Linked DNA regions of Homo sapiens. The protein of the gene in region 2 purifies or fractionates together with the protein of the main gene of each other region. This does not show direct contact. Each region holds a gene or a part of one and is shown on either strand. Other genes may lie near its edges.

Region 1 (7,000 bases), on a different chromosome or scaffold from region 2:
GATCATGAAACAAATCAGTGAGAACCAGCATTCCTTGACAGTAGTGATTTTTGCCTGAAGTCTTTTTACATTCACTTTTTTGAGAGTCGTGGATATCCCCCTTATTATCGTTTAGAGTATTGTTTCTCCCAGCAAAACAAAACTATTGGTGAGAATTCTTTGAAATGAGGACAGTAGTTTCTTGCTGGTATTACTGTAAGTCAAAACCTAATTTGCCATTGCCACAGAATTTTTAGAAATTGTGTATATCCAGCTATATCTAAGTCTAAACACAGTGGATTGTTTTGTTTTTTTTTTGTGATGGAGTCTCGTTCTTGTCATCCAGGCTGGAGTGCAGTGGCGCAATCTCAGCCCACTGCAACCGCCACCTCCTGGGTTCAAGCGATTCTCCTTCCTCAGCCTCCCAAGTAGCTGGGATTGCAGGCGCTCGCCACCACACCTGGCTAAGTTTTGTATTTTTTTTTTTTTTTTTTTAGCAGAGATGGGATTTTGCCATGTTGGCCAGGCTGGTTTCAAACTCCTGACCTCAGGTCATCTGCCTGCCTTGGCCTCCAGAATTGCTGGGATTACAGATGTGAGCCACCATGCCTGGCTGTGGATCATTTTCCTTTTAAAGTAGCCATGCCTTAGTCTGCTTTTCAAGAATGATCCTGTTCTTTGGTGAATTCCAAGAGCAAATGCAAACTCTTGATTTGACATTTTGGTTATAGTAAATATTGTTGAATGAGGTTTAGAATTTGTTTTATAAAACTTTTATTATGGAATTTAACTTGTAAAGTTAAAGGGAAATTAACCTTAGCCTCCTATTTGGAGTTGGAATTAGCATTTGAATGTTTTTATATTTTACATGTATGCGTATTAACAGCTTTTGTTGATTGGGTGATTCTTATCCCTATATTAACAAAGTTTTGGAATATATGTGTCAGTAAAGAACATAGATGTGCTATTTTGGAAATCTTTTTTATGATGATATTAGCTTCTTACTCTCTATTGAAGCATAGATATCTATTTTAGATTTTGTCATCTTCAGGGAAATTCTTAGGATCATTGTTTAAGGTTCTCATTGTTTTCTCAAGATTTGGTTCACCGATGCTTTTATAATTTACATTGAAACTGATAAAAACCCATTATGTTTGGTTTGTTATTAATCATTAACTAAATATGTACATAGACATATATTATTCTATACAGAGTAAATAATTTCATTCTTTTTTACTGCTACATTGAAAATAATGTTCTGGATTTTCTCTTGCCTCTGTTTTTTTTTTTTTGTTTTTTGAGATGGAGTCTCGCTCTGTCGCCCAGGCTGGAGTGCAGTGGCGCGATCTTGGCTCACTGCAACCTCTGCCTCCCAGATTCAAGCAATTCTCCTGCCTCAGCCTCCCGAGTAGCTGGGACTACAGGGGCGCGCCCCCACGCCCTGCTAATTTTTTGTATTTTTCTTAGAGACAGGGTCTCACCATGTTAGCCAGGATGGTCTCGATATCCTGACCTTGTGATCCTCCCGCCTCAGCCTCCCAAAGTGCTGGGATTACAGGCGTGAGTCACCACGCCCGGCCTAGAAACATGACTTGTAATGAAAAATTAAGTTCTTCAAAACTCGAGTTTGACACATGCATGTTGTAAATTGGTATTTTCTTTTTATATATACTTCAGATCAACAGAGGAGGATATTTTTGCCACCACCACCTGGAATTAGAAAATGTGTCATATCCACCAATATTTCTGCAACGTCTTTGACAATAGATGGAATCAGGTAAAACTTTTGAACTTTCTCTTAAAGTCAAGGAAGCCTATCGTTACTAAACATTAGCTAAACATTACTGAGTTTGCTTTTCTGTGCCCTCCACTAATTCCCTTCTCTCCTACTTTTTGATGTTCTTAACATGTAATCACCTATTTTGTTTTGTAATTATTGATTGCTTTGAGCAGGAAATGGAGTAGGAGGTACATACTATATTCCTATTCACACTTTTTGTTTTTTTAGAGACAGGGTCTCATTATGTTGCTGAGGCTGGAATATAGTGACTATTCACAGGCGTGCAGTCATAGCACACTACAGCCTTGTATGGAGATCAGCCAATCCTCCCGCCTCAGTCTCCTGGGTAGCTGGGACCACAGGCATGTGTCACCGTACTTGGCTGTTCACACTTTTTAACTACTTGGCAACTTGAAGCTTCTTTTCAAATTTAAGATTATGTATAATGCTTTATGGGTTTCACTAAATAGGAAGCCAAACCTATTTTTCTGTACTCCCATTATAAGCATATACCTTAGATGATTTGATATTTCCTTCTACCTTGCAGCCTCACTCGGTAGAGTTAGTTTGTATATCCAGTGTTTATCTGGATGTATTGTCTCTGACTTTTTACCTTTTTGTGAAAATTAACTATGATTCAGGTCCCTTATCTTTTCTGGATGTAGTAAATAGTGCTATCAAATTTTTGGGTAAATTTAGTAAGGAAACACTAAGAAATTTTAAGTCTGGACTGACAACTAATGCAAAGTTCTTTAAGACTGGGTTATTTATCATTTACCGAATATATTTTATTTCTTTAGCTAAGTCTGATTGTCTGTCTCCGGAAGGCTGAACCTGAATCTCAAAGATCCTGTGTGTTTCTTCTGGGTAAAATGATCACCCAGGTCTGAGAGGAAGTCTAATTTCCTCTGCTTTTCTTCGTTACTTTAAAAATAATGGTTTCACTAAGGGATTAAGGGAGTGCTCTCCTGGGTAAATTAACCTCTGTAATTTTCTGTTTCCTGCACAGGCAAAAGCCATTAAATAGCATGTTTCAGAATGTTGTCTTGTTACTGCTATCCTACTTTGGTTCCTTACCTGACTTGTTCACCATTTAATTGGCTTAGAATGGCATGTTAAGGGCTAGTTGAAATTAGATTCTGAATCTGTTTAAATGGTCTGAAGCTGACTTTCAAGTTTGTGTATTTTTGTATTGAGGCAAAATTCACATAAAATTAATCATTTAAAATGAAAAATTAAGTAGTACTTAGTACATTTACAGTATTGCGCAACCACTGCTTCTGCTTAGTTCTAAAATATTTCAACACCTCAAAATAAAACCCCATACCCATTAAGCAGGTACTCCACATTCCCCTCTTGACCCCAGCCCTTGGCAACTACCAGTCTTACTTTTTGTTTGTACGTATTTTCTTTTTTAAAAAATTCTTTAGATGTGTCAGCAGGAAGCAGTAGGTATTTTCTATTCTGGATATTTCATACAAATAGAATCATATAATATGTGGCCTTCTGTGTTTGCTTTCTTTCACTTAGCATAATATTTTTGAGGTTCGTCCACATTGTAGCATGTATCAGTACTTCATTCTTTTTTGTGGCTGAATAATATTGCATAGTGTGTGTGTGTATATATATATATATATATTCCATTGTGTGTGTATATATGCGTGTGTATATATACTACATACATATATGCAAAGCAATTTGTTCATCCCTTCTTCCATTAATGGTTAATGGACATTTAGGTTGTTTTTACCTTATGGCTGTGATTCATAGTGCTGATATGAACATTGGTCTATAAGTATTTGTTTGAGTACTTGTTCTCAGTTCTTTTTGGTGTACACTTAGAAATGGAATTGCTGGATCATATGGTAATTTTGTGTTTAACTTCTTGAGGACCTCCGAACAATTTTCCACCTCGGCTGAACCATTTTACATTCCCACCAACAACATACGAGGGTTCCAATTTCTTGACTTTCAAGTTTTACACTTAACATAAAAGGCATTGTGTACCTGCTAGTTTGCTAGAAAAGGAGAAACCAAAGTGGTTAACAATTAACAAGTCTTCTTTTATTTTCCAGAAACTTAACTTGCTTTGATTCTTCTTAGATATGTGGTAGATGGTGGCTTCGTGAAGCAGTTAAATCACAACCCCAGATTAGGGTTGGACATCCTGGAGGTGGTTCCAATTTCAAAGTAAGTCTCTATGTCAAATCTTTTTATTCAAAGAACAACTGATTAGGTAATTTCTAGCTGTTTTGGGGAGACAAAGTAAATTACCTGAGAAACCCACAGAACATTTTGGGGAATTTTTGGGTTTTTTTCCTTTTGTAGGAGCGAGGCATTACAGCGAAGTGGCCGAGCTGGCAGGACTTCTTCAGGAAAATGCTTTCGGATCTATAGTAAAGATTTTTGGAACCAGTGTATGCCTGACCATGTGATCCCTGAAATTAAGAGAACTAGTTTGACATCTGTAGTTCTGACCTTAAAGTGCCTTGCCATACACGATGTCATAAGGTATGTAGACAACTAGAAAAAAAAGGAAAAACTTGTTAGCCTGGAACCAAGTTATTGGCTCAAAAATTATTTTGAAATATTTGACTGATACATCCCTGAGAGTTGAGGCTAACCTCTTTTACAGGTTGGTTTTTATATTGGTTGCTTTTCTTTTCTTTTTTTTTTTTTTTTTTTTTTTTTGAGATGGAGTCTTGTTCCGTTGCCCAGGCTGGAGAGCAGTGGCACGATCACGGCTCACTGCAACCTCCGCCTCCCGGGTTCAAGCAATTCTCCTGTCTCAGCCTCCCGAGTAGCTGGGACTACAGGTACCTGCCACCATGCCCAGCTAATTTTTGTATTTTTAGTAGAGATGGAGTTTCACCTTGTTGGTCAGGCTGGTCTCGAACTCCTGACCTCAGGCGATCCACCCACCTCGGCCTCCCAAAATGCTGGGATTACAGGTGTGAGCCACTGTGCCTGGCTCTATTGGTTGCTTTTCAACTAAACTAACACAGAAGACTTCCTTGCATTGCTTTAGTAGGATCTCTTGCTCATGTTTAACCTTGGCTTAATGGCGGGGTTAGGGGGTTGTGCTGATGTTTATGTGGATCACTTAGTGACCACTGTTTATTTGTAATGAAAGGTATATAATGAGCTGGGCATAACAGCTTATGCCTGTAATCTCAGCACTTTGGATGGCCAAGGTGGGAGGGTTGCTTGAGCCTAGGATTTCGAGACAAGCCTGGGCAACATAGTGAGACCTTGTCTCTACAATTAAAAAAAAAAAAAAGTCTGATATGGTGCATGCTTGAGTCCCAGATATTTGGAGGCTGAGACGGGAAGATTGCTGGAGCCGGGCAGGTAGAGGCTGCAGTGAGCCATGATTGCACCACTGCGGTCCAGCCTGGGCAACAGAGTGAGACCCTGTTTCAAAAGAAGGGGGCTGGGCGTGGTGGCTCACGTCTGTAATCCTAGCACTTTGGGAGGCCAAAGTGGGCGGATCCCTTGAGGCCAGGAGTTTGAGACCCGCCTGGCCATCCTGGCAAAACCCCGTAGCTACTGAAAATATAAAAATTAGCTGAGCTTGGTGGCACGTGATTGTAGTCCCAGCTACTCCGGAGGCTGAAGCACGAGAATCACTTGAACCCAGGAGGCAGAGACTGCAACGTGCCAAGATCACACCACTGCACTCCAGCCTGGTCAACAGAGCGAGATTCTGTCTCAAAAAAAACAAAACAAAACAAAAGGGTATACAGTTGGAAAGTGGAGTGTTTTTTTTGTATGGCCAGCATCATACTATATACCATGAAAGACAGAGTAATACTCTGTAGTTTTTTGCTTTCACTAAGCTTAAGTTATATTAGGAAAACAAGGTTCAGACACGTGAAATAAAGGAAGAACAGTTAAATTAGCCAAATATTAATATAATTTATTGGTATAAGATAGAATATTGTTATAGATAGAAATTTCTATCATACATGGTAGGGGAATTAATGGAGGAAAGTACTATCTTCTTTATTTTGGTCTTAATTGCCTTGGAATGTAAAACTGCTCAGGAATTTTGGGGGATGGTAACCGTGCAGTTTTTAAATTCATAGTAAGTGATTATTAGGTGCATCCAAATATGTATTGTAGGCCGGGTGCGGTGGCTCACGCCTGTAATCCCAGCACTTTGGGAGGCCGAGACGGGTGGATCACCTGAGGTCAACCTGGCCAACATGGTGTAACCCTGTCTCTATTAAAAATACAAAATTAGCCAGGATGGTGGTGCTCGTCTGTGATCCCAGCTACTTGAAAGCCTGAGGCAGGAGAATTACTTGAACCCGGGAGGCAGAGGTTGCAGTGAGCCGAGATTGCGCCATCGCACTCCAGCCTGGGCAACAAGAGCGAAACTCTGTCTCCAAAAAAAAAAAAAAACCAAAAAAAGCAAAAAAAAACCCCAAAACCCACAAATACTCATTGTATACTCTTGGAAAGCCAATTTGCCAATTTCAAAATGTTTTGATAGTTATCATTAGATTAGAGATTTTCTGAATGAGAATATGTAGATACTGGAAAGAGAAAAGCATGTAATAAATGAAATTCTGACTGTAGCAATAAATTATACCAATGAAAAGAAGGAAAGCGCCATTTAAAGAAATCCAAAGAGCCCAATAGAAAACTTTCAGATGAACCCAGATATTAAAATAATGTCTTGATTTTTTTCATTTGGGGAAAAAGGGCCATTTTTGGAAATAGCTGCTCAGTAAGTTTGACATTGACTCTTAGTATATTCACAAAGGATAGCAGAGCAGCCTCTAACCAAGAATGAGTATATATTAGAAAAATAGGAACAATAATTAATATCATCTGCATTGAATTATTTTTCCATCTTAAGTCTTAAAAGCCATAGTGTACTAAAAATCGCAAAATTATGTTTCAAAATGCTTGAAACAAAAAACAAAGACTTCCTTTTTAAAAAGTTGTATAAAGAATAAGGAGAGGTAGAGCCAGTGTTTGGGGTAGATGGTATAGGATTCATAGACGACAGAAAGAAAATGGATCTTCTCAATTATTATTTTGCTTTCCCTTTCTTTTCCATCAGGAAGAATAATTTTAAAGCTGAAAATGCAAGAACAGGTCTGAATAAGAAGGAATTGATGACTAAGGTGGAAGGAAATAATGAGGGAAAACCTACCACCATAAGTGATTTTGTCTTGAGCATTTAGACATTATTTCCGTGGTGTTAAAAGAACTTGCAGATTTAGCGTC
Region 2 (7,099 bases):
GCTGGCATACAGTAGTTGCTCTATAGACGCTGGTGGAATGAGTGAATGGATACATGAAAACAGGACTGAAGGAAGAGAGACAGGCTGACGGATGCATGTCTGTTTATTGGCACAGGGTCCTATAAGGGCCAAGACCACACCCTCCCACCCTCTTTTCTGTAAAAATAAACTCTGTTCTTCCTTTTCCCTGCTCTATCTGCTTTCCTGCTTTGTCCAGGGAGAATCAATCATTTGCTAAGGCTTGTGCCCTAAGACACAGGAACCAGTACCCGCTACACATATGCACTTCCCCTCTCAGCCCAGGGAAACAGTGGGCAGCAGGAGGCTTTCAGAGGCCCTTGGGCTTCCACTAGGAGCTGTCAGTGAAGGTCAGCAGCAGCACTGGGAGCAGTGGCACAAGGAGCACAGGGTGAGGTGGGGGTAGCCCGTGAGGGTGAGCCAGACAGAGCTGAGTCCACCCCTAAGTGCGCACTGAGTGAGCCTGGGGAGAAGTCCAGGAGGTACACCACCCAGGCCTGTGGGTCACAGTGGGGCAGGCACGGCAGGCCCCATGGCCGCCAGGCTGAGTGAGCCTGGGGACAGAAGAGGCAGACTCCTTCCTATGGGAACTGGCCTCCCCACCCAGACCTCTTCCAGGCAGGGTGACACGGAAAGATGTCACAGTGAATGGTGGGGGCTCTGCTGGAGGCAGGGGCACCCCCAAAGCAGAGGCACAATGTGGTGATTGAGGAGGGTCTGTACTCATGTCACCTGTGGGGGGGAGGGACTAGACCCAGCCCAGCTTGCATTTGCTTCCTCCCAACCCAAGAGCAAACAGCTTTGTCAGGAGAGCTGCCCCAGGTCTGGTGACAGCTGGCCATTTCTCCCCTGATCCAGGTCTACCACACCTCACACAGCTGCCCTGGGTTCATGGGGGAGCCGACAGGGCAGCCGAAGTGCCGCAGGAAGTCACGGGAGTTGGAGAGAGTGCCCAGCACGCGGAAGCGGGCAGGGCTGTGGGGGTCGGTCACCAGCCCCTCGTGAGAGCTCTCTGGTGTGCGGACCGAGCACCACACCTGCGGGCCAGGACAGACATGGGGGCATATGGTGTCTAGTGTGGAGCCGGGCCTTAGAGTCAGCTACAGCCATCCCAGGGGCACAAACCACCACCGCTGCAGCCCCTCCCAAGTTCCTTCCAAAACTGCCCTGGACATCGGGTTGCCCAGCATGGACATGACGAGGGGAAAAAGCGGAGCCCCAGAAGCTGCCTGCTGTGGCTGCCCAGCGGAGGCTCTGCCTGGGTCCTTGCTCTGCCACTTACTCTATTCCTGGGCAGCCCTGGACAGGCCACTCTGCGTCCCGAGCTTTCGTTTCCTGCATGTCTCCCTCACAGGAACAGCGTGAGGATGAACGTTTGCCCCCTTCGCCACCCTGTGCCCCGCAAGCACGACAACCTTGCCCTTTGAACTATGCGAAATCCTACCAAGGCATTCTCCCGCTCAGGCCTCTTCAGGCTGCCTTTGTGGGCCCTGGCTGGCCGGAGGCTCTGGGCATGGGCCTTCCCAGCCCACCTTTCATGCCCCAGCCTCAGCCCCATTCACCAGCCCGTTTGACACGTGCCCCAGAGTTCTCCTAATGACATACTCAGGAGGGAGCAGGACAAAGGGGCAGACCCCAGGCCTTCCGAGAGGGTGATACCTGGGCAAATCCCACGAAGAAGAGCTGGTGGTTGGTGAGCCCCACGGCTGGCAGTTGCTGCTCCTCCCCATGCTTTCTCAGCCATGCTTTGTAAGCCTGGGGACAGAACAGTGGGCAACAAGCCCATCCAGGCCTGCCCCCACCCACCCGGCACCTTTCACCCCAGGCCAGCAGGCCTCAGCCGCTGGAGGGCTGGTCAGGCCACTCACATTGTAGGCAGCCTTCAGCCCCCCGTTGTCAGCAATGTTCTCCCCCAGCGTCTGGCGGCCGTTGAGCCTCTCCCCATTGACCTGGTATTGATTGTACTGTTCCTCCATGCAGGCCGTGTGGTTCCGGAAGGCTGCCAGGGACTCATTCTGCCACCAGGGCCGCAGGTTCCCTTCTTTGTCATACTCGCGCCCTGAGGAGAACTCACCTTTGCACCCCACCAAAACCAGAGCTCGTCTCTTGGGGGCAGCAGTGCCCCCACCAGCCCTGGTCCACAGACTTCAGGGCCCTTGGGGCTACATCAATGTCCCAAGGCCTTGCAGGAGCCACTGGGAATTCTAGGCTAGAGGGGACGACTCCATGGGCCCCTACCTTGGTCATCAAAGGCATGCGTCAACTCATGGCCCATGACCACACCGATGCCACCGAAGTTCAGGGCCCTGGTGGGTGAGGAATAGCAAGTGAGGACATGGCGGGGGTACTTCTGAATCCCACCTCCAGCCCTGCTCCCAGCTCAACCACAGGCCCAGGCCCCAGCACCCAGCCCCTCCTGCTTCAGACACACTTGGGGTGGTTGCGGGCATAGAAGGGGGCCTGCAGGATGCCAGCGGGGAAGACGATCTCATTCTTAGTTGGAAGGTAGTAGGCATTCACTGTCTGGGGGGTCATGCTCCACCTGGCGGAGGAAGAGTGAGGGGCTGAGGCTCCCGACTCTCCTGACACTGCTCCCCTCCCAACAGCCCTGCCCTACCTCCTGCAAGGGTATGGGGCCGCCGGTCTGGGACCAGTCTTGCCACCCTTTTCCCCCATCCCAGGAACCTTCCCCCACCTCTCCTGCCACCCCTAGTGTCTATGTCCACCCCGTCATTCTCACTGGTCTCGGCTGGGAGGCTTGCGGAGCTGGTCAGCCATAACCTTGGCAGAGAAGTTGTACAAATTCAACATGTTTTGGAAGAAAGAATCTTCAGAAATTTCGTACTGTGGGAAAGGTGGGAAGTAGAAAGAGAGCAAGAGAATCCATTGGAGAAGATAATAGCGCCAGTTTGGCTACTCATTAGTATCTCTCCAAACCTCAGTTTCCTCAACTGTAAAATATCTAGTAAACCATAATTGGCAATATTTAAAGGCCATTTATGTTATGGGTGCTGTTTTTTTACATACTGTATTCATTTATCTCACAACAACCCTATGAGGAAGGCACTAGTAGGACCCCCATTTTACAGAAAATGAAACCAAGGCCTAGAGAGATTTTGTTAAGGTTACAAAGTTAGAGGTAGAAACAGAATTTGATTAGGCTTGACTCCAAATCTTGGCTCGTTAGCACTATATTTCACTGCTGTTTGGCCTGCAGCCTGTCACAGAGCCAACATTTTAACAATGCTGGTTACCTCCATCTGCCTCTAAAAGAAACCGACAAGCACCTCTTTCCCAGTGCTTGAGCCCCAATTTCTAAGCCCAGGGAACAGTGCCCTCTACAGGGCTGAAGTTCAGTACTGATGAGCGTAGGTACTCACCCCGTCATAAACATCATCCAGCTCTTTGGGCTCCAGGATAAAGTCTGGGAAACCAATCATATCATAGATGGCATCTGCCTGAAGAGACCAGGTTAAGGGTTTGTTTCCTTCCCCAGGTTCCTAGCAAAACTGTATCCTTGAACCCCACCTCAAGATGGCGCCCCAACCCTAGCCACCGCTCACTTTCTCCTTGGCTGCCTGGCGGGTCTTCTCATCCATCCAAACCAGCTGTCCCAGGGCCTCCTCAAATGCGGTCCGGATTTCGCTGATCATCCCCTCTGCCTGGGAGGGAGGAGGTAAAGTCAGCCTTCCCCTGCACTGAATGCATCCCTGCCCCACCCATCCACCCTTGGTGCCCCATCCCTGTCCACCCAGGGGAAATGGGAACGTCTAGACTAAAGAAATACGGCTGAGCACCTGGAGACGATGAGAAGGAAACACCATTTGTAAAGGTACTGGGATTGTGGCTGGCTTTTTTCTTAATTAAGTACACATTTTAATTGACAATAAGTTCATCAAATTATATTATAATTTAATATAGTGCAATGATTTTTTTTTTTTTTTGAGACAGAGTCTGGCTGTGTTACCTAGGATGGAGTGCAGTGGCGCAATCTCGGCTCACTGCAACCTCCGCCTCCCGAGTTCAAGCGATTCTCCTGCCTCAGCCTCCCAAGTAGCTAGGATTACAGGCTCCCGCCATCATGCCCGGGTAATTTTTGTATTTTTAGTAGAGCTGGGGTTTCACCATCTTGGCCAGGTTGGTCTTGAACTCCTGACCACGTGATCCACCCGCCTCAGCCTCCCAAAGTGCTGGGATTACAAGCGTGAACCACCACGCCCAGCCTAGTGCAATGATTTTTATCTGATTATGAAAAGAGGACATTCACAGAAAATTTGGAAAATTGAGAATTGAAGAACAGACCAGTTATAAAGCACTCATTCATAGATAAGTTCTTTTAACATTTTGATTACCCACTTCTAGAGTTTTTCCCTCCCCTGATATGCATATAAAATATGGAATTATGTTGTATAGGGTATATATTTTTTGTAACCTACTTTTTTTGCTGAAAGATATATCAGCCATTTAAGGATCCTCACAACCCATCCTAACCACAATTTATTTTTCCTTTACCCTATAGTTGGACATTTAACCTGTTCTCATTTTCTGCTATTATAAACAACATTGCCATAAAAACCATAAACATCCTTACAGGTAATACTTTAAGCACATCCATTATCATATCCTAATAAATAAATATTTCTTCTAGTTATATAGTTAAACATAAACACATAGACAACTTTAAAGGACTCTTATAATCCCACTGCCCAAAGCAGCACTACTTCATTTGTTCATCAATTTACATCCAGTTGTTTTTCTTTTCTTTTCTTTTTTTTTTTTTTTTTTTTTTGAGACAGAGTTTTGCTCTGTCGCCCAGGCTGGAGTGCACTGGCGCGATCTCGGCTCACTGCAACCTCCGCCTCCTGGGTTCAAGTGATTCTCCTGCCTCAGCCTCCCAAGTAGCTGGGATTACAGACACCCGCCACCACGCCCGGCTAATTTTTTGTATTTTTAGTAGAGACCAGGTTTCACCATGTTGGCCAGGCTGGTCTCGAACTCCTGACCCCATGATTCACCCGCCTTGGCCTCCCAAAGTGCTGGGATTACCGGCGTGAGCCACCGCGCCTGGCTCCCGTTGTTTTTCTATATGTCTGCACATACATGAACAGTCAATTTTGAGGGCATAGTGTTGAAAGAATCTTGTAGACTCACAATTTCTTTGCTTTGCCGGTCAAACGTGGCCTTCACGAAGAGGGACCCCAAAGCAAAGCCAAGGGCGTCATCCGTGTTGGAGATGCAGGTCTGCCACCTCGGCACACAGGACTGTTAAAGGACAAAGAGCCAGGACCCTAGAGATGGCTGTGTCCTCCAGTCAGAGGGCCTTTCTCTGTCACTGGGGCTAGCAGCCCTTCTCAGCTCTGGACAAGAGTCCTGGGTTTGCTCAGTGCCACATCTGTCTTTTTTTGAGACAGGGTCTTGCTCTGTCACCCAGGCTGGAGTATAGTGGTGCAATCACTGCTCACTGCAACCTCTGTCCCCTGGGCTCAAGCGATCCTCCCACCTCAGCCTCTCGAATAGCTGGGACCCCAGGCACATGCCACCACACCCAGCTATTTTCTTTTGTAATTTTAGTACAGAAGGGGTCTCACCATGTTTCCCAGGCTGGTCTTGAACTCCTGAGCTCAAGTGATCTGCCCGCTTTGGCCTCCCAAAGTGCTGGGATTAAAGGCATGAGCCACCGTGCCCGGCCCACAACTAATTTTATATCCAGTCAGTCCCCCATGCAAGAAACCTGGGAGTCACTCAGCTTCCTCCATCTCCCTAACCCCCCACATTCAGTCTATCAGCAGTTTCTACTACTTTGACTTCTTTTTTTTTTTTTTTGAGATGGAGTCTCACTCTGTCACCCAGACTGGAGTGCAGTGGTGCGATCTCAGCTCACTGCAAGCTCCACCTCCCGGGTTCACGCCATTCTCCTGCCTCAGCCTCCCGAGTAGCTGAGACTAAAGGCGCCCGCCACCACGCCCGGCTAAATTTTTTGTCTTTTCAGTAGAGACGGGGTTTCACCGTGTTAGCCAGGATGGTCTTGAACTCCTTACTTCAAGTGATCCGCCCACCTTGACCTCCCAAAGTGCTGGGATTACAGGCATGAGCTACGGCGCCCTGCCTGCTTTGATTTCTTAATCATCTTTCCCATCCACTCAAGTGGACGGGGAAAATGATTACCACTTCCCTGACCTATAACACTATCATCTTGAACTCCTGAGCTCAAGCACTCCACCCACCTCAGCCTCCCAAAATGCTGATTACAGGCACGAGCCACCACACTCAGTCTGCAATTGCCTTTTTTTTTTTTTTTTTTTAAACAGAGTTTTGCTCTTGTAGCCCAGGCTGGAGTGCAATGACGCAGTCTCAGGTCACTGCAACCTCCAGGTTTAAGTGATTCTCCTGCTTCAGCCTCCCGAGTAGCTGGGATTACAGTTGCTTGCCACCACGCCCAGCTAATTTTTTGTATTTTTAGTAGAGATGGGGTTTTACCGTGTTGGCAAGGCTGGTCTTGAACTCCTGACCTCAGGTGATCCACCTGCCTTGGCTTCCCAAAATGCTGGGATTACAGGCATGAGCCACCAAGCCTGGCCTGCAATTGCCTCTTAACTGGACACCCTGACTCCATTCTCATCCCCGCTTCCCTGCTGCTCCCCTCCATCTTCCATTTAGCCACCAGAAATATCATTTCATACATAACCCAACTGTGTTTCTCCTCTCCATGCTACTCCCATGGAGCCCCATCTGTGAAAGAATCAAGGCCGGACTTCCCAATACAATATTCAGATCCCTTCCCAAGTGCCCCATGCCCACCTTACCAAACCCCGTCTCTCAGTTGCCCTCTTCTCAAGCTCATGCCAGAACGTGTGTAAAGCCACCATGCTCCTTTTGGCCTCTAGGAATTTGCACATGCCGTTCCTTGTCCCTGGAATGCCCTTCTCCCCGGCTTTCTTGGTGAACTTTTCCATCACATGGCACCTCTCAGAGAAGGCTTCTCTGATGCCCTTCCCCACCATCCCCCCAGGTGAAATGTGCTGTCCCACCTCTGTCCTATAGCAGAAAAGTCTTTCACTCAGTGTGAGCAGTTATCACCACA
Region 3 (7,000 bases), on a different chromosome or scaffold from region 2:
AGCATAAAGAGGGTTCGACTCCTCCCACGTCTGCGTTTCTGCGTTCTCGTTTGCATCCCAGCCCCACTTTCTGATGGTGGGGATGTGGGATGGGGAGGAGGCTGCCAGGAAATGCTTGGCCTGGACACTTGCCCAGTGTCCCAAGCCCTCAGGCACTGCCTTCTTCCGCATTTCGGGACCTCTGAACCAACCTGGGGACAGGGGTCCACGTGGGGAACAGCCGCCATGGCACAGAAGAGGGTCGGGGCAGGCTCACCATGAGCACGCCGAAGGACCACCAGTCGGCACTCTGCGTGTGTCCTCGCCGGTTCACCACCTCGGGCGCCATGTACTCGATCGTCCCGCAGAAGGAGTACGCTCTCTTGTCGTGGTCAATGGCCTCCTTACTCAGGCCGAAATCTACATGCAAACACAGCACACACACTGCCTCAGTCTCTGGGTGTGTTCGGGGGTCCACACTCAGGCGGGCATCAGCGTCCTTCTGTGGGCTCTGCCCCCTCTCCAGGTGGGCGCAGCAGAGCCCTGCTCAGCAAAAGCGGGACCATGTGAGTGCTTCCCGAAGCCCGTCAGTGCCCGAAGCCCGCCGGTGCCTGAAGCCGAAATCCTCAAAGCGTGAGGAGTTCCTTATGAGTGTACACACTCAGGAGCGCCTTGGAACACCACCCAGACAGCAGGTTGTCAGTCAGTGACGGGAACTCCCCCAGACCCTTTTCCACAGGCACGTGGAGGTGGGGTGTTGCAGGGCAGAGGGACCTGGGGTGGAAGGCAGGTGTGTGGCTGACAGCTACTGGGAAAGGGGCTCTGGCTGCCGGGGAGCCAAGGGGAAGGCAGAGTGTGGCGAACCTGCCCTGCCCCGACAACACGAGGGTGTGGAGAGCACAGACAGGCGGAGGAGGCCTGGGGAGCAGAGGCCGAGCTATGATGGAAGAACAGGGATCTCCAGGTGCCACAGAGCAAGGAGGGGCTTCTGAAGGAAGTGGCCCCGGGGCTGGAAAGAACAAGAGTGCATTGGCTCAGGGCCCCCAAGTCTTGGGGATGACAGAGCGTGGCTAAATAGAGCCAAGGCAGGCCCAGCCAGTGGGTAGAGCAGCAGTGCCCAGAGAGGCCATGTCCTTGCCCCTGAGCCTGGGAATGGGCCACCTTATGTGGCAGAAGGGACTGATATGGTTTAGCTGAGTCCCCATCCAAATCTCACCTTGAATTGTAAGAATCCCCACGTGTCGTGGGAGGGACAGAGTGGGAGGTAACTGAATCATGGGGGTGGGTTTTTCCAGTGCTATTCTCGTGACAGTGAATAAGACTCACGAGATCTGATGGTTTTATACAGGGCAGTTCTCCTGCACATGCTCTCTCTTTGCCTGCTGCCATGTAAGACGTGCTTTTTCTCCTCCTTCTCCTTCTGCCATGATTGTGAGGCCTCCCCAGCCAGGTGGAACAGGGTGAGTCCATTAAACCTCTTTCCTTTATGAATTACCCAGCCTTGGGTATGTCTTTATTAGCAGTGTGAGAATAGGCTAACATGGGGACTTTGAGAACAGACTAATACAGGGACTTTCAGAACAGACTAATACAGGGACTTTGAGAACAGACTAATACAGGGACTTTGAGAACAGACTAATACAGGGACTTTCAGAACAGACTAATACAGGGACTTTCAGAACAGACTAACACAGGGACTTTGCAGATGCCATTGAGGATCTGGAGATAGGGGATGACCCTGGATTTCTGGGTGTGCCCAACACCATTGCAAGGGTCTTCAGGTTAGGAAGGGAGGCAAGATGCAGTCAGAGAGCTTGGAAGATGCTGCCTGCTGGCTTCCACCATGGGGGACGCAGCCCAGCCAAGGACTGCGGGCAGCTTCTACTAGCTGGAAGAAGCTAAGCAAGGGAGTCTCCTCTAGAGGCCCCCAAAAGGCAGGCAGCCCTGCTGACACCTTGATTTCATTCCTGGGAGACTTATTTCACACTTGGGGCCTCCTGACCTGTCAGGTGATAAGTTTGTGTGGTTTAAAGCCCCGATGTTCCTGGCATTTTGTTGCAGATGCTATAGGGAACTAATACAAATGGGGTGTCCTGAGACTAGAGGAGCTGTTGCCAGTTTGACTGAATTTGCTGGTGGCTGCCAGGGCTCAGATGGAAACAGGGAGGGAAGTCACGTGGCCACCACCACGGTCCAGGGAGTGAGAAGGAGGCAGGGACAGCATCAGTGAGGGCAGCAGTGCAGGCCGCACTCCAGCGAGACTCCAGATGTCTGCCCTCAGGTTGGCACTGGGCATCTGCAAGGCCCACATTGCAGGCTACACTCCAGCAAGACTCCAGATGTCTGCACTAAGGTCAGCACTGGGCACTGGGACTCCTGAACTAAACACCCAGCGACGCTGAAGGAGCCCAGCAAACAGAACGTGGCAGGGGAGAGGGAAAAGAAGGGGCCACCGGGAAGCTGCATGGGTCTGGACGTTATGAAGACATACAATGCCATAAGCAGTCTGTAGCTATAGAAAATTCTGCCAAATCAGAGACAAGCATCTGGCAAAGGGAAGGGCGGTGTAAATAAGAGGGCTTGGGCTTTGAGGTGGTCCCCAAAGGTACCAGGGCTGAGATGAAGCCATGGAGGGGGCCTGCCGTCTTTTACAAACCTGTGATCTTAATGTGCCCCTCTTCATCCAGGAGGATGCTAAAAGAAAGGGAGAGAAAACAGATGCTTTAGAAAGAGACCCAGCCTGCCGACGGGCACGCAGAGCTCAGAGGAGAGCTGCGGGGCAGCTGGGGGCGGACGTTTTCAGGGAGCCCTGATGGAGCTGGCCCAGGAGATCCCCACGGCTTGTGCGGTGGGCCTTCCCATCCTGCCTCGCTTCTCCACAGCTCCCAGCTCGAGAAAGCATTTGGTGCCACACCTCCTGGATAAAGGGATGTGTGTTCGTGCAGCTGGAGGACTGCTGGCTTTAGATATTCGTGGGTCCCCAGGGAAGGTCTAAGAGCCCTCCAGACTGCTGTGCGCAAAGCATAGGTGGAGAGCGTCCTGGGACTGCTGTGGCCTGTGGAGACCCAGAGCCTCGCAGATGGAATGTTTCTGCACTCGGGATGCCCTTGATGTCCAAAGACCCCCTTCTTCTCCCATGTATCCTCCCCTGAGCCCTGCCCTGGCTCTCCAGACCCACCCAGGTGAGGCCTGCACAAGCGGGGGCCAAGGCATCGAGGAGCTTCGGGCTTCAGCAGGTACATCTTGTGATGAGACCTGCTCCCGGCTTGGCACCCCTGCGGGCCACTGGGTCCCTGTCTTGTTCCCTGCCAAGCCCTTGTCACGCCATGTGCCGGACGTGACAGTTGCCTTTGCTCCTCCCAGGTATCCTGCCGTGGGGTGAACCCTGCATAGAGAATGGAGGCAGGGTCCGTAAAGGGCTGGGTGCAGGCATAAATCCCTTCTTCCCTGAACATCAGGCGGGAGTCTGGGCTGTGATACCTTGACACACCTGTGGCCCTAAACTTTCCCCATTTATTTATTTGGCTGTAATTAAATCCTGTTCTTCCAGATGCTGGGAGGTACCAGCCTAGCCCTAAAGAGACCAGGAAGTGGGCTGGAAAGAAACAAAGGCAAGGCTTGGAGGATTAATCTGTGATACCTTTATAGAAACCTGTGAAAGGAAGGAAAGCCTGACTTGCTACAGCACAGAGGAGCCCGGAGGACATTATGCTCGATTAAATAAGCCCGTCCCCAAACGACAGGTATTATATGATTTTACAAATATAAAATGTATGGTCCCTAGAGGGGCCAGAGTCACAGAGATGGAAAGTGGATGGCGGGTGCCGGGGGCTGGGGAGCTACTGTGCAGGGGGACAGAGCTTTAGTTCTGCAAGATGAAACAGTTCTGGAGATGGACGGTGGGGATGGGGGCCCAGCAATGGGAACGTGCTTAATGCCACTGAACTGGGCACTTAAACGTGGTGAAAACTGTAAAAGTCATGTGTATTTTTCTACAATTAAAAAAAATCTGCCACAGAGTTAAAAAAATAACCACTATTTTCTGGAAATGGGAAGGAAAAGTTACAGCATGTAATTAAGATGACAATTTATAATGAACAAGGCAAATCTTTTCATCTTTGCCTTTTGGGCATATTCAATCTTTGCCCAGAATTAAGCACCTTTCAAGATTAATTCTCTAATAATTCTAGTTGAACAACACAACCTTTTCCTTCAAGCTTGCAATTAAATAAGGCTATTTTTAGCTGTAAGGATCACGCTGACCTTCAGGAGCAATGAGAACCGGCACTCCCGGCCTGAGTGGATGCACGGGGAGTGTGTCTAACACACAGGCGTCAACAGCCAGGGCCGCACGAGGAGGAGGAGTGGCAACGTCCACACAGACTCACAACACGGCACTCCGACTTGGAGGGTAATTAATACCAGGTTAACTTCTGGGATGACCTTGGCAACGACCCAAGGTGACAGGCCAGGCTCTGCAATCACCTCCCAATTAAGGAGAGGCGAAAGGGGACTCCCAGGGCTCAGAGCACCACGGGGTTCTAGGTCAGACCCACTTTGAAATGGAAATCTGGCCTTGTGCTGCTGCTCTTGTGGGGAGACAGCAGCTGCGGAGGCTGCTCTCTTCATGGGATTACTCTGGATAAAGTCTTTTTTGATTCTACGTTGAGCATCCCTTATCTGAAATGCCTGAAACCGGAAGTGTTTAGGATTTGGGGATTTTGCAATATTTACTTATATATAATGAGATATCTTGGAGATGGGCCACAAGTCTGAAATGAAACAAAATTCATTTATGTTTCATATATACCTTCTACACATCACCTGGAGCTAATTTATAGAATATTTTAAATAATTTTGTGTATGAAACCACGTTTGTGTTAAGTGCTTATGTGTGGAATTTTCCACTGGGGGGTGTCCCATTGGGGCTCAAAAAGTTTTGGATTTTGGAGCATTTCAGATTCGGATGAGGGATGCTCCAGCTGTATTTACACACGTATTCAACTCACATGTGTGCCTGTGGCGTTCCACGGACTGGTGGTGAAGTCAGATCATCAAGCACATGGGCAAATGCATTTTGCATCCTGCAGTGGATATGGGATGTGACCTGGTTTCTGGGTAAACCCAGCTGTTTCCCATAGATGACAGCTGCATCTAACAACACCAGCTTCGGAGCAGGGCTTGTCTTTTCTCAGTTCCATGCAGGTGACAGGGCAGGAATGTGGAGTAGCAACTGGGACGCGTTTGCAGACCCCAGGGCCCCCCCTTGGTCTTAGCTCACAGGCACGGGGCTCTCTGGTGGTACCCAAGGCCGGTCGGTCCCACCAGGCCACAGGTGATGCCTCATCTAGGGGCGGCTATGGGCCCTGGTCTGGGTGGGTGGCATTAATCGGCCCCTCAGGGCAGGGAAGAGTGAGTGATCACCTCAGGGATACTGCTGAGGTCAACTCAACCTAAAATACCATCCTCCAAATCTCTTCTTTTCTAAGTGGATCACTCCTAGTTATGTGTCAGGTCTACAAAGAATATGTAAAAACAACAACAACAAAATGAAAATGGGAACACTATTATTTTGGAGGGACTTTACTGTTCAAAAATCTAGAATAGATTAGCAAAATATCGTAGAAATAATAGCCTCACAGGTCACCACTGCCAAGGATATACAAATCTCAGTGGACTCTGGGTCTGAGAATTCTGGGGCCGTTGTCTTTTAGGTAAGTTCTTGGGAGAGCTGTTCTGACTGGGGACCTAGAGGTGGGGCTGACAAGTAACTGAGTAGAGGTTCATTGACCACATTCCTGGGACTTGCTGAAGTAGATGAAAGGGCTTCCTGAATCTGGAGGACAGTAGGGAAGAGATGAGAGAGGAGGAGAAACTGCCCTGGAGGCAGCCATGTTTGAGATGGTCCCCAGTGGCCAGATGAGCCTCACCCAGGAGAGAGGGCGGGAATGTGGGTCAGGGTCGTGGGCGTGCCCCTCCCCAGCTCCGGCTTCCCGTGCATCACAGACATGCACCTGAGCCTGGCCTCCCTCAGGCGTTATGAGTGTCAGGTGAGAATGGGCCTGGGCATTTCCTATGCAAATCAGCAAGGCCACACCTGCATCTGGGCACCTGATGCCTGAGCCGGTCCTGCCGGCACAAGAGTCTCCCCAGCCTGCTCTCTGATATGTCCTCATTTAGGAAATAAATATCTAGCAGTGGCTACCAACATGGGCCAGGAAAATACATGGAGCTGATGGGCGTGGGGAAGTCAGCCCTAGTTTTTTCTCACTTACTTCTCAGGCTTCAGATCTCTGTAGATGATCCCCAGGCTGTGGAGATGGTCTAAAGCCAAGGCCAGCTCAGCCAGGTAGAACTTGACATCCTCCTCCGTGAACATGACCTAGTAAGAAAAAAACAAAAACAAAAACAAAAAACGTTTAACTTGTTTTATGGCTGGTGTGTTTTAAAGAACTCTGCCAGAGAGACTGAGAGTCCACACTGGGGTCAGTTTGCTCTGTGGAACGCTATGGCCCCCCAGAGTGGTCTTCTGACTCTTCTCATGGAAAAGTGAGTTCCCTCTGCAGTTCCAAGATCAGTGGATGGAGACGAGGGCTTCCTGCACAGGTGACTCATGCCGCCTTGAGAGTGGGGTGCTGAGATTCAGCCTCTCCTCTCTGTGTCCTTCTCACCCCTGCAAATCATTTGGCTCTGGAGTAGGTTTCTGGGTTTACATTCTAGCATGAGTGCTGCTCATGTGAATTCATAACAAATGTAATACAAGTAAGACGCTGAGGGCTTGATGAGGTGACTGAAAATGGGGCTCAAATATCATTCTTTCCCCATGGATTATCTATCTCCACTCCTTGGGTTGATGCAAACTAGTAGCCTACGTAACCTGCTGTCAACCCAAAGTGGGATTAGTTCTACCAAAGATCACCCACAGGTGGTACAGAGTTGGCTATGGGTGCCCCAAGCTGAGGGGGCGGGATGGGGAGGGGTTTCCAGGTGTTGGGGTTGGCAGCCACATTCCGGGATCCCA

The links.
Region 1: the proteins of ECE2 (region 2) and DHX40 purify together in Homo sapiens (affinity purification with mass spectrometry; 3 studies listed by BioGRID and IntAct, with this or other methods). This does not show direct contact.
Region 3: the proteins of ECE2 (region 2) and RPS6KA2 purify together in Homo sapiens (affinity purification with mass spectrometry; 2 studies listed by BioGRID and IntAct, with this or other methods). This does not show direct contact.

The regions. Positions count from the first base shown.
Region 1 is NC_000017.11:59,575,610-59,582,609, forward strand, and holds part of DHX40 (probable ATP-dependent RNA helicase DHX40), read left to right. Parts: intron 1-1,656; coding exon 1,657-1,756; intron 1,757-3,862; coding exon 3,863-3,949; intron 3,950-4,087; coding exon 4,088-4,270; intron 4,271-7,000. UniProt on the Homo sapiens protein: Probable ATP-dependent RNA helicase.
Region 2 is NC_000003.12:184,286,018-184,293,116, reverse strand, and holds the end of ECE2 (endothelin-converting enzyme 2), read right to left. Parts: intron 5,281-7,099; coding exon 5,170-5,280; intron 3,681-5,169; coding exon 3,582-3,680; intron 3,477-3,581; coding exon 3,399-3,476; intron 2,863-3,398; coding exon 2,759-2,862; intron 2,561-2,758; coding exon 2,450-2,560; intron 2,325-2,449; coding exon 2,257-2,324; intron 2,078-2,256; coding exon 1,887-2,077; intron 1,774-1,886; coding exon 1,678-1,773; intron 1,056-1,677; coding exon 879-1,055; 3' UTR 86-878; downstream 1-85. Other genes in the region: EEF1AKMT4-ECE2 readthrough transcript protein, read right to left, coding at 879-1,055, 1,678-1,773, 1,887-2,077, 2,257-2,324, 2,450-2,560, 2,759-2,862, 3,399-3,476, 3,582-3,680 and 1 more. UniProt on the Homo sapiens protein: Converts big endothelin-1 to endothelin-1. Also involved in the processing of various neuroendocrine peptides, including neurotensin, angiotensin I, substance P, proenkephalin-derived peptides, and prodynorphin-derived peptides.
Region 3 is NC_000006.12:166,498,252-166,505,251, forward strand, and holds part of RPS6KA2 (ribosomal protein S6 kinase alpha-2), read right to left. Parts: intron 6,362-7,000; coding exon 6,255-6,361; intron 2,674-6,254; coding exon 2,636-2,673; intron 400-2,635; coding exon 257-399; intron 1-256. UniProt on the Homo sapiens protein: Serine/threonine-protein kinase that acts downstream of ERK (MAPK1/ERK2 and MAPK3/ERK1) signaling and mediates mitogenic and stress-induced activation of transcription factors, regulates translation, and mediates cellular proliferation, survival, and differentiation.